Regions from separate parts of the Homo sapiens genome. Here region 1 is linked to region 2. Evidence: fine-mapped expression QTL. A gene starts in region 2. The other region holds a variant in brackets. All regions are shown on one strand. Distances are between the middles of the regions. Region 1 overlaps ZNF615 (zinc finger protein 615). Region 2 holds the start of ZNF432 (zinc finger protein 432).

The links. PIP is the estimated chance that this variant, and not a neighbour inherited with it, causes the effect.
Region 1: its variant is the best candidate, but not a certain one, in a credible set for the expression of ZNF432 in whole blood (INTERVAL, PIP 0.83).

What each region holds. Positions count from the first base shown.
Region 1 is chr19:52,000,380-52,005,767 of GRCh38, reverse strand. ZNF615 (zinc finger protein 615) reads left to right here. Exons shown (of 7, transcript NM_001199324.2): 3 at 1,868-2,071; 4 at 3,487-3,613; 5 at 3,860-3,955. The coding sequence starts at 2,057. Among named protein-coding and RNA genes, the nearest start is that of ZNF615, 5.1 kb to the left of the region's middle. The variant C/AC (reference allele first, on the strand shown) is at 2,935.
Region 2 is chr19:52,046,591-52,051,978 of GRCh38, reverse strand. It overlaps ZNF432 (zinc finger protein 432), which reads left to right and starts at 3,141. Exons shown (of 5, transcript NM_014650.4): 1 at 3,141-3,284; 2 at 4,919-5,125. The coding sequence starts at 5,111. RefSeq lists an enhancer at 2,769-3,358.

The sequences.
Region 1 (5,388 bases), 46 kb after region 2:
TGTAATGTGATAATAGCCTGAGATGAAATGTCATGGAATGCATGTAGCTGTGTTCTTATAAGACTTTATTTACAAAACAGGTGGTCCAGGTCCTGGATACTATATTACTGACTCTTGATTTAGGTGACCATATGGCTTTTCTGCACAAATTCACAGTTGGGCAACTAGAGCCCATGGACTAAATCTCCCAGCACCTGTTTCTGTTAATAAAGTTTTGTTGGGACCTGGCCACAATCATTTGTCTATTTTTTTGTATGTGGGCATTTTTGAGCTACAACAGTAGAGTTGAGTAGCTGCCACGGAAACCATAGACCTCTCTTTTAACATGGAAATAATTTTTTAAAAATTAGTTTTATTGCTGACACTATTGATTACAAACAACATATAAACTTATTTGTTAATGTTATGGTAATTAGTATTTTATACTCTTCTGCTATGCAGATATCTTAAAATACGTTTTCATTTGCCATCCTCCTACTTTATATGTTCTTTTTTGTTGTTGTTGTTTTGAGATAGAATCTCACTCTGTCACCCAGGCTGGAGTGCAATGGCACAATCTTGGCTCACTGCACCCTCCGCTTCCTGGGTTCAAGCAATTCTCCTGCCTCAGCCTCCTGAGTAGCTGGGATTATAGGCACGCGCTACCATGCCCAGCTAATTTTTGTATTTTTAGTAGAGACGGGGTTTCACCATGTTGGTCAGGCTGATCTCGAACTCCTGACCTCGTGATCTGCCCACCTCGGCCTCCCAAAGTGTTGGGATTACAGGCGTGAGCCACCGCACCCGGCCTATATGTTCTTATGGAATATTTTAACACTATATATATTAAAACTTCCTGATATATTATTATCAGTATTATTTTTCCAGTCAATACTGATTTAGGCTTTATTAATTACTTACCGTTTTGTTCCTCTTCAGACCTTGCTCCTCTGCTTACACTGGAGTCATCTTTCTTTTGCTTGAAGAATATCCGTTAGGATTTGCTGTAATATGTAATTCCTCAAGGATATTTTTGCTGAGTATCCTTTATACATTTATACTTAGAATACTTTGCAAGTATCAAGATGTGGATGGCGGCCGGGTGCAGTGGCTCATGCCTGTAGTCCCAGCACTTTGGGAGGCTGAGATGGGTGGATCAGTTGAGCTCAGGAGTTCAAGACCAGCCTGGCCAACATGGTGAAACCCCGTTTCTACTAAAAGTACAAAAATTAGCAGCGCATGTGGCGTTCACCTGTAATCCCAGCTTCTCAGGCGGCTGAAGCAGGAGAATCGCTTGAACCCAGGAGATGGAGGTTGCAGTGAACAGAGATCACGCCACTGGAGTCTTACTCACTCCAGCCTGGGCAACAGAGTGAGTGAAACTCAGTCTCAAAAAAAAAAGAAAAAAAGTCAAAGATGTGGATGGTAATGAATAATTTAAATAAGATAGTGCTTATTATTTGCTTAGGACAGTGTTCTCAGATTGCAGTATCCTAGAATGTAAAAAGACCTCTGAAAAGGTAGATGGGTACACATGGTTTTAAAGAAAAAATGTGTGCATCTTAACTGTCTATGTGACCTCTTTCCTAAAACTGGTCTGCCTGAGGATTGCCCAGCTGCTGGGCATCACGTTGTGACGATTCTTTTCCCCACATTCTCTTTCACTTACTAGCAGTAGTCATACCACGTCAACTTTATATAGAAGGGTGCTGTACCTCCCATATATTCAGAATGTTATATTTTACTAGCCCAGATATAAAAGCTTCTGGAGCACTAAATAAAAGAACAGAGAGATATTTGGGGGCCTTGATTTAAGGTGAGCATATAGGAACAGTGACAACATCTGGGCCTAAAAAGAATGTACCACTCAGAGTAATTTGCTCTTCAGCCCACAGGTGCTGAGAACAAGAGAAATCAAGTGAAGGAAGGAGGCGGAGTTTCCAAGACTTGGGTGTCATCATTTCTGGGGACATCCTTGATTGGAGATTGAAGTTTTTGAACCGAAATTTAGAGCTGATTCAGAAGAGACAAATACAGAACGTCCAAGTTAGCAGTCATTTCCCAAATTTAGGAGACAATGATGCAGGCCCAGGTGACTTTTGGTTTGTTTTATTCTTTCCTTTATTCTCCAATGTATTTTTAAAGTCCTGTAAAAATCAGGGTAATTAATCAGAAAAGTATAAATTGGAAATATCAGGACCTGGAGAAATCTGGGCAAAGAAGGATCAGGGATATATTATTCATAGGATTCATACTACATGATTCATGTTGGAATTTGTGACTGTGTGGGACCCCGTAGGTTACATTTGCTGTAAACTTGCCTCTAGTATCTCTGACAAGCTATACAAGAGAAACATGATAAGTTATATCAACTGTGAGAAAGCAGACCAGTTTCTTGAGGGATGTTAATGTTTCATGGCTTATAATTCTGAGGCTCAAATACATCTTTGATAGTTCTTCACGGAGGTGTTATGGTAGGTGGTGTTCTTAACTGTAGCCTTCTCATAAATGCAAAAGTAGATTTCTTTTAGCTGTTTCTTCATTGTATTTAATGTTATTAACGCTGTCTAATAACATACACATATATATGAATTTGTCTGTGTGCATACATGTGTCTGCATATATATTCTAAGGATTTTTTTTTCCAAATTTGCTTAATCATGGCCAGGCGCTGTGGCTCACACCTGTAATCCCAGCACTTTGGAAGGCCAAGGCGGGTGGATCACCTGAGGTCAGGAGTGTGAGACCAGCCTGGCCAACGTGGTGAAACCTCATCTCTACTAAAAATACAAAAATTAGCCAGGTGTGGTGGCGTGCGCCTGTAATCCCAGCTACTAGGGAGGCTGAGGCAGGAGAATTGCTTGAACCCGGGAGGCAGAAGTTGCAGTGAGCCGAGATTGTGCCACTGCACTCCAGCCTGGGCAACAGAGCAAGACTCCATCTCAAAAAAAAAAA[C/AC]AAGCAAGCAAAAAAACAGATTTGTTTAATCATCTAATAATCTTTGTGCTTTATACATGTTTTATATAGTCTCTTTTATTTCATTCAGAATAAAATAATAATATGGTTAACTATGTTAACCATAGTTATTTAGAATGCATTGTCTTGTGATACTAGCATCTGCCATGTCTTCATTACAGAGTTTGATATTGGCCTGAAAGCTCATAGTGAATTTAAGAATCTGAATTATTCGTCTACTTGTAACTGGCATATACTTATGACTAGTTTGGTATTGGGAAATAGATGCTACATGTTATAGATGTTCTTTCATTAGCAAGAGGATTGGATAGCTGTGTATTACAGACATTTCTTTGACTTTTCAACATTGTTGAATGAATGGATGACCGCACAGTTACAGAATATTTTACTGGAATTCTTATTCTGTCAAAATGTACTAAGAAAAAAACCCCACCAGCTTCCTATGTGGTGAAAATGAGCGGAATGACTTCCTTGACATTCTTTTCCTATCACCAAAAGAATATGACTTCATTAAACAGAAGTGTGTTATTACAGGAATCCCTAACACTGGAGGATGTGGCTGTGGACTTCACCTGGGAGGAGTGGCAGTTCCTGAGCCCTGCTCAGAAGGACCTGTACCGGGACGTGATGTTGGAGAACTACAGCAACCTGGTGGCAGTGGGTGAGGACAGCTGCCCTGTGTCACTCAGAGGGTGCCCAGTCAGTGGCCTTCCTTTCTCAGCTGCTTACCTGCAGTACTCTGAAGTGGTAGATTCTCACATCATTCTCTTGCCCCACACAAGAGAGTATAATCTACCTTCTTGTTACAGATCTGATACCTATGTAGTCCTTAAAATGTAACTCTCCTTTTTCAATATTGCCAGCCCCGTTTGATTTGTCTAAATCTTCTGTCATTTCCCATGAACAGGGTATCAAGCCAGCAAACCAGATGCACTCTCCAAATTGGAACGAGGAGAAGAAACTTGCACAACAGAAGATGAAATCTACTCTCGAATCTGTTCTGGTGAGTGAGAGGAGCAGCCAGGTGGACAGCCACAGACACCATGTTCTGCCCACACAGAGCAGGCGTCAAAGCAGTGAGGGCATCTGAGGACACAGCAACAGCCCCTCCATCACTCCTTCTTCCCAAGGAAGAGCTCTTTTTTGTTATAGTATGGAAAATATGCCCCACTTTCTTTTCTTTTTTTTTTTTTTTTTTTGAGATGGAGTCTTGCTCTGTCACCAGGCTGGAGAGCAGTAGCGCAATCTTGGCTCACTGCAACCTCCGCCTCCCGGGTTCAAGGGATTCTCCTGCCTCAGCCTCCTGAGTAGCTGGGACTACAGGTGCGTACCACCACGCCCAGCTAATTTTTGTATTTTTAGTAGAAACGGGGTTTCACCATATTGGCCAGGATGGTCTTGATCTCTTGACCTTGTGATCTGCCCACCTTGGCCTCCCAAAGTGCTGAGATTACAGGCTTGAGCCACTGCGCCCGGCCCCCACTTTTTTTCCTTGAGATTTCATCTTTGTTTATTTTATGCACATCTTGTTTTTGTCTACATAATTATCTTCTTAGGATTTTCAAATCTGCCTTTTCTTGTCCACTGTCACAGTGTCTCTGCTTGTGTATTACCTCTCTTGCTATGAAATTCCATTTTCCAGGCCTCTCCGGAAAGAGAGACCTTTGAACTCATTACTTTTTTCTGACTACTGCATCTTCCTGCCCTAGTAGGAAAATAATAATTTTCCTTCATTATTCCCACTCTGGGAATCATTATTTTCCCTCATTTTCTCCACTCTGGATGCTGTGCCCATGATAACCTGGTCTCTGATTGGCATTTATGTGTTTCTTAAGTTCTCTTATTCCTCTTATACTGAATCCTGAGTTTCTCCATACTTTTTTTTTTTGGAAAGAAGGTCTCATCTGTCACCCAGGCTCACTGTAGCCTTGACCTCCTCGGCTCAAGCGATCCTCCCACCTCAGCCTCTTAAGTGGCTGGGACTACAGGCACACATCACCATGCTCAGCTGATTTTTGTATTTCTTATAGAGGTGGGGTTTTGTCATGTTGCCTAGGCTGGTCTTGAACTCCTTGGCTCAAGTAATCTGTCAGCCTTGGCCTCCCAAAGTGCTGGGATTACAGCGTGAGCCTCCGTGCCCAGCCCATCCTTCTTCCATTTTCTTTACTGTTCTCATAACTTTTAAAAGTTTTTTTCATTCCCGTGAATTAACTCTTCATTCTCTGGAAGAGACTACCAAATTAACTTCTGCCTTAATATTATCTAATGTATACTTTATTTCCATGTATTTTACTTGTCTTCATGACAACTAGCCTGTAACTTCCCATTTTGTGTATGAGGAACAAGAATCATCTTCCCTCTAAGAATAATGCTTTTGGCTATCCTTATATAATTTTATTTTTTTAATTTTATTTTATCTTTTATGTTTTTATTTTA
Region 2 (5,388 bases):
TGGTGATGACTTTTACCAAGCATACTGCCTTCAAGCACTTTTTAAACAAAGCACATCCTGCGCAGCCCTAAAACCATTAAACCTTCTGTCAACACAACACATGTCTCTGCAAGCACTGGGTTGGAGCTAGGGTTACAGATTAACAGCATCTCAAGGCAGAAGAATTTCTCTTAGTATAGAACAAAATGGAGTCTCTTTTGTCTACTTCTTTCTACATAGACAAGTTAACAGTCTGATCTCTCTTTCTTTTCCCCACAGCTGCCCTTATTATTTTTTCCTTCATTTCAACTTTGATGAATTCAAACAGGATACAATTTGGGGAATATATGCTTATAATTTGCACTTGAGCTATTCTGTCCGAGTATGCCCCAGGACATTTTATGGAAATACCATGCAGTGCAATTTCAGACTCTGAGCATCTAAAAACCTGCCTCAGTATGCATGAATATTCACTATATGATTATAGTTCTACATGCCTTTGTATGTATAAGATCCATGGCTTGCATTTGCCTTGATTTTTATGTGTGGTAAAAATAAAAATATAGCAAGTGTATACAAATATTAGGAAATGGGCCAGGTGTTGGAGCTCATTCCTGTAATCCCAGCACTTTCGGAGGCCAAGGCAGGTGGATCACATGAGTTCAGAAGTTTGAGACCAGCATGAACAACATGGTGAAACCATGTCTGTACTAAAAATACAAAAATTAGCTGGGTGTGGTGGTACACCTGTAATCCCAGCTATTTGGGAGGCTGAGGCAGAAGAATTGCTTGAACCCGGGAGACAGAGTTTGCAGTGAGCTGAGATTGCACCACTGCGCACCAACCTGGGTGACAGAGTGAGATGCAGTCTAAAAAAAAACTTATTAAAAAAATATATTATATATATGGAAATAAACAATAATTAGGAAATAAGAATTTCTTATTTGTGCTTAGAATACACAGTGAAGTAAACAGAAAAAAAGAACAACAACAAAAAAGAATACATAGTGAAGTAATTTGAAAAGATTAAATGTTAAGACAGGCATGGTGGCTTATGCCTGTAATCCTGGCACTTTGGAAGGTCGAGGTGGGAGGATTGCTTGAGCCCAAAAGTTCAAGACCAGCCTGGGCAACATGATGAAACATCATCTCCACAAAACATACAAATATCAGCTCTGTTATATATGAAATAAACAGAGTTTTCCAAAGATCTTTTATAAGATGGGAGAAAGGAGATGAAATAGAAGAGAGATTGACTTGGTCCTTCAGGATTGGAATCTGATAGATGGGACACTAGAGGAAGTTTAATGTAATCTTTTTGGCTATCTAGATCTAGTTTTTAGGCCCTGGCTAGAAGCCAGTTAGTTCCTCTTCTAGAATGGCCAATTAAGTCTACAATGCCGGCCACAGTGAGCTTGTGGTATTTAGCTTGCCCTAATCCTATCCCCATATCCTCAGCTTCAAGGTAGCCTTGAAAAGCAACCACCTTTTAACAACAGTAACAGTGAATATCTGCACCCTAGCAGAATATCTGCACTTGAGGAGGTAGAAATGGCTCTGAAAATGGCAGAAATGGCTCTGAAACACCCAAAAGCCTCCATCCCCACAGAATGTTCACTACTAAGCCTGCTTTGCAGCCTGCTGAATAGGTCTATTCTCATAGTATTTCTCTATTTGGCTTGACTTTATTTATGTGAACACTCCTACCCATAGGGCACTTGTCAAAAAACAATCAGCAGCAATTGTTTAACACTAGAGTGTTTAGGGGAGTGACAGTGTGTGTCTGCGTGATAGATGGAAGTAATAAGAGGGCACAGGGGAAAGGGGCCATACGCATAAGATGATGGAACAGAGAGCCTGGAGGGTGGGGTATAGAGAGTGTAGGGGAAGGGAGAAGGCAGACAGGTAAAAGGAAAAAGAATGTTAAGTGTTGTTCAGCCTCAAGACTGACATGATGAAAGTACCTTTATTGTGGTTTTTGTAAATTAGAATGCATGCTTTATTATTAAAAAAAACACAATTGAAAATGTTAAGGACCTTTTCCTCCTTGCTTCTTATAAGAAACCATCATAAGACATAACTTGTAATAATTCTGTAGAAATATACATATATAAAGATATATGTATATATATATTTTAAAATAGTATGTTTTTATTGCAAAATATTCATTAGTGTCATCATATCATAGCCAGATCTACAACCCCAGAGTAATTCCCATGGTTATGTTACATGGCAAAAAGGACTCTGCATTGTAATTAAGTTTATTAATCAGCTGACTTTAGCATTGGGAGATTATTCTGGATTGCCCAAGCACTTAAGAATAGGAGAAACCGGAGAGATGCAGCAGCAATAGTCAGTGGTTTCAAATATGAAAGGGATTTCACATACTATTGTTGGCTTTAAAGATAGGAAGTCGTGGGGGCAAGGAAACTCTCTAAAGGAAATTAATCTGGCAACAACCTAAATAATTCTAGAAAAGGATTCTTTTCCAGAGTCAAGAACAGAGCCAGGTGGTTCTTCTCTTCTAAAGACATTTCCATGGGCCAGTTCCACCGCAAGCTTCTCAGAGAGAATATGTTCTGCCGTACGGACACCGAACGTCCCCTAAGATGGCCGCCCCCATGATGCTCTCCCCTAAGGGCTCTGGCTCCGTTACCTGCAACGCACCGCTCGCTTATTTTTTGTTCTAGTCTCTCTTGCTTCAGTTTTTATACGGCTTCTAAAACGCTTCGCATTTACAATAGTGACTGAGGTGCCCAGAGGTGACTTTAATTTTCCATTGAGCTGAGACGTCACAGCCATCATAACCGCTAAGAAGGGATGCCGCGCCTTTGTGGTAATAATGGGTTCTGGCCTTTGAGAAGTTTGCGCCGTTCACTGTCCCCTGCGAGGAGAAGACTAACTTATTTCTGTTCCGTGTCTGTTCAGAGGACTTTACCCCCACGCCGTGTCTGCCTGTGTGAACTCAAGCCTCTGATAAGCTCTCCATTTTCTGCCAGGGCTGAGGTGTCTGGAAATCGGACAGTTTAAGAGGCCTCCGTCCACCGCGTCTCCCGGCCGCTGTGCCTTCTGTACGTCACGTACTCAAAGATGGCCGCCCCCAGAGCGGCGAGGCGACGCCGGCGCGGACGCGTCTCCTCCTGAGGAAAAGCCGGAAGGCCGCATTCCGCTCTCCATGGAAACGCGGCTGACCGTCTCTGGAGGTTTAGAGGGGGAGGGAGTTGGGCGAGGGGCCCAGAAGTGGAAGAAGTTTAGGGAAGTAAGTTCAGCTTTTAAGAGGTCGCGGCGATTCCAAGGAGAGTCAGGTCAGTGTGTGGGTCAGGGCGTGGAAACGTGGTGGGAGGGAGCTTTCTGAGGGCGTCTGCGTTGTTGGTGGCGCTATATGGTGGAGGTAGCGCGGGGGTTGGGGGAGGCGGGGGCGGGTGTTTCCTTTTGGAGGGGAGCTGGTAGGAGTCCCTGGTGGGTGTCTGTGATAGGATATCTTTGGGGTCCCTCATGGAGGCTCTGGTGGTCAGTGATTAAAGGCCTGAATAGATCAACGACCAAGAGTACTGAGGTCAGGGATTGTGGTCCTCGCGGGTCACTCCCCAGTGGGGCTCAGTGATTGAGAATCGATGGGGTGGCTTTTGTCAACGAATGTGACTTCTGTTTCACATTCTGGATTAATCTGAGGCTTAGTGATTGATGAATCATTAAGGGAATCCAGTGTACGTGTGTGTCTATTCCAGGTTTTCCTATTTTATCTGGCGGGGTGGTGGTCTTTTGTCTAGAGACAAGTGAAAGCCGAAGTCTTTTCACAAGAGCCCTGGCTGGTTTTGTGTGTGTGTGTGTGTGTGTGTGTGTGTGTGTGTGTGTGTGTGTGTGTGTGTGTTGAGCTCAAACTTTGGCTGGAACAGACTTGATGAACGTTAACATTTCCTAAAAGTTTCAGGTCCGAGTACCTCCTCCACAATGAGTTTTCTAATCCTCTGGCTTTCCACAACAACCCATGCTCTTGAACCTGCAGAAAATGAAAGTTTTTTGGGGGTGAAGGGGGGCGGATGAATAGGCTTTCTATTTAACATTATGTTTTTAAATTACTGCGCACAAATTAACAAGAGCCTATTTTTATCCTTCCTCTTGCAAATGTACTGCATATTTTTATGGGTGTTTCAGGTTTTGTATGTTAGTATATAAAGGCGGCTATTTTCCCAGTATTTATATTTTTGAATTGTTTTCTAAATTTGTATTTATAACTCGTATTCCTTTTCTCTGTCTCCCTCTTTTTTTCTATGTGTTTCTTGTTCTTCATATTGAAGTGTGTATATAAACATTTTTTTTTTTTTTTTGAGATGGAGTCTTGCTTTTGTCGCCCAGGCTTGAGTGCAATGGCTGGGCTCACTGCAAACTTCGCCTCCTGCGTTCAAGCCATTCTCCTGCCTCAGTCTCCGAGTAGCTGGGATTACAGGTGCCTGCCACCATGCCTGGCTAATTTTTTCTATTTTTAGTAGAGACAGTGTTTCACCATGTTGACAAGGCTGGTCTCGAACTCCTGACCTCAGGTGATCTGCCCATCTCGGCCTCCCAAAGTGCTGGGATTACAGGTGTAAGCCATCATGCCTGGCCGTATATAAACACTTTTAAATATATATAAAGACTTTTAAAGAGGTGTGAGAGTAACATTGTATAAAGGAAAAAATGTAGTTTCTCACCATCCATATGGCCTGATTTAAAAAACTGATATGAGAATTACCTACTGCTTAGGCATGATGCTATGTGGATTCTCCTTTGTGACCTCCCCTTTCATCTTCATGTTACTTCCACACTTCACCGAAGAAAGGCATTTGGCCTACATTGAGGGTCTTGTGTTTCCTTGGTTTGAGAGAACCAAATAAAGAGACAAATATTCAGGGCCACGTGTTAAGGTGAATGTACCCCTGAAAGTTGTTTTGCTCTTCAGTCCACAGGTCCTGGCTACCCTGGGAAGAGACAAGAAGTAAATGAAGAAAGAGGAAGATTCCAGGACCTAGATATGATTTCTGTGGACACCCTTCACTGGTGACTGAAGTTTCTAAATAGAAATTTAAGGCAGATCCAGAGGAGACAAAGACAGAGTATCCCAGGTGCTGGCCATTTCCCACAACAGAAGAAAATGATCAATGCCCAGGTGACTTTTTCTCTATTTTATTCTCTCCTTTATTCCATAGTGGATTTGTAGAGACCCGTAAGAAATCATTTCAGAATCTAGAGAGAAATAAACTTTAAATCTAACTCCAACATCATGGCAAAGTAAGATCAGGAATATAGTGTTTATGTGATTCCTACAAAATGACTGATGTTGGAAAATAATGCCTGACTAGAAGATCCTTTCCATTACCTTAGCTCTCAGTTTGCATCTGATGTCTCTGACAGCCAGTACAAGAAAGTCAC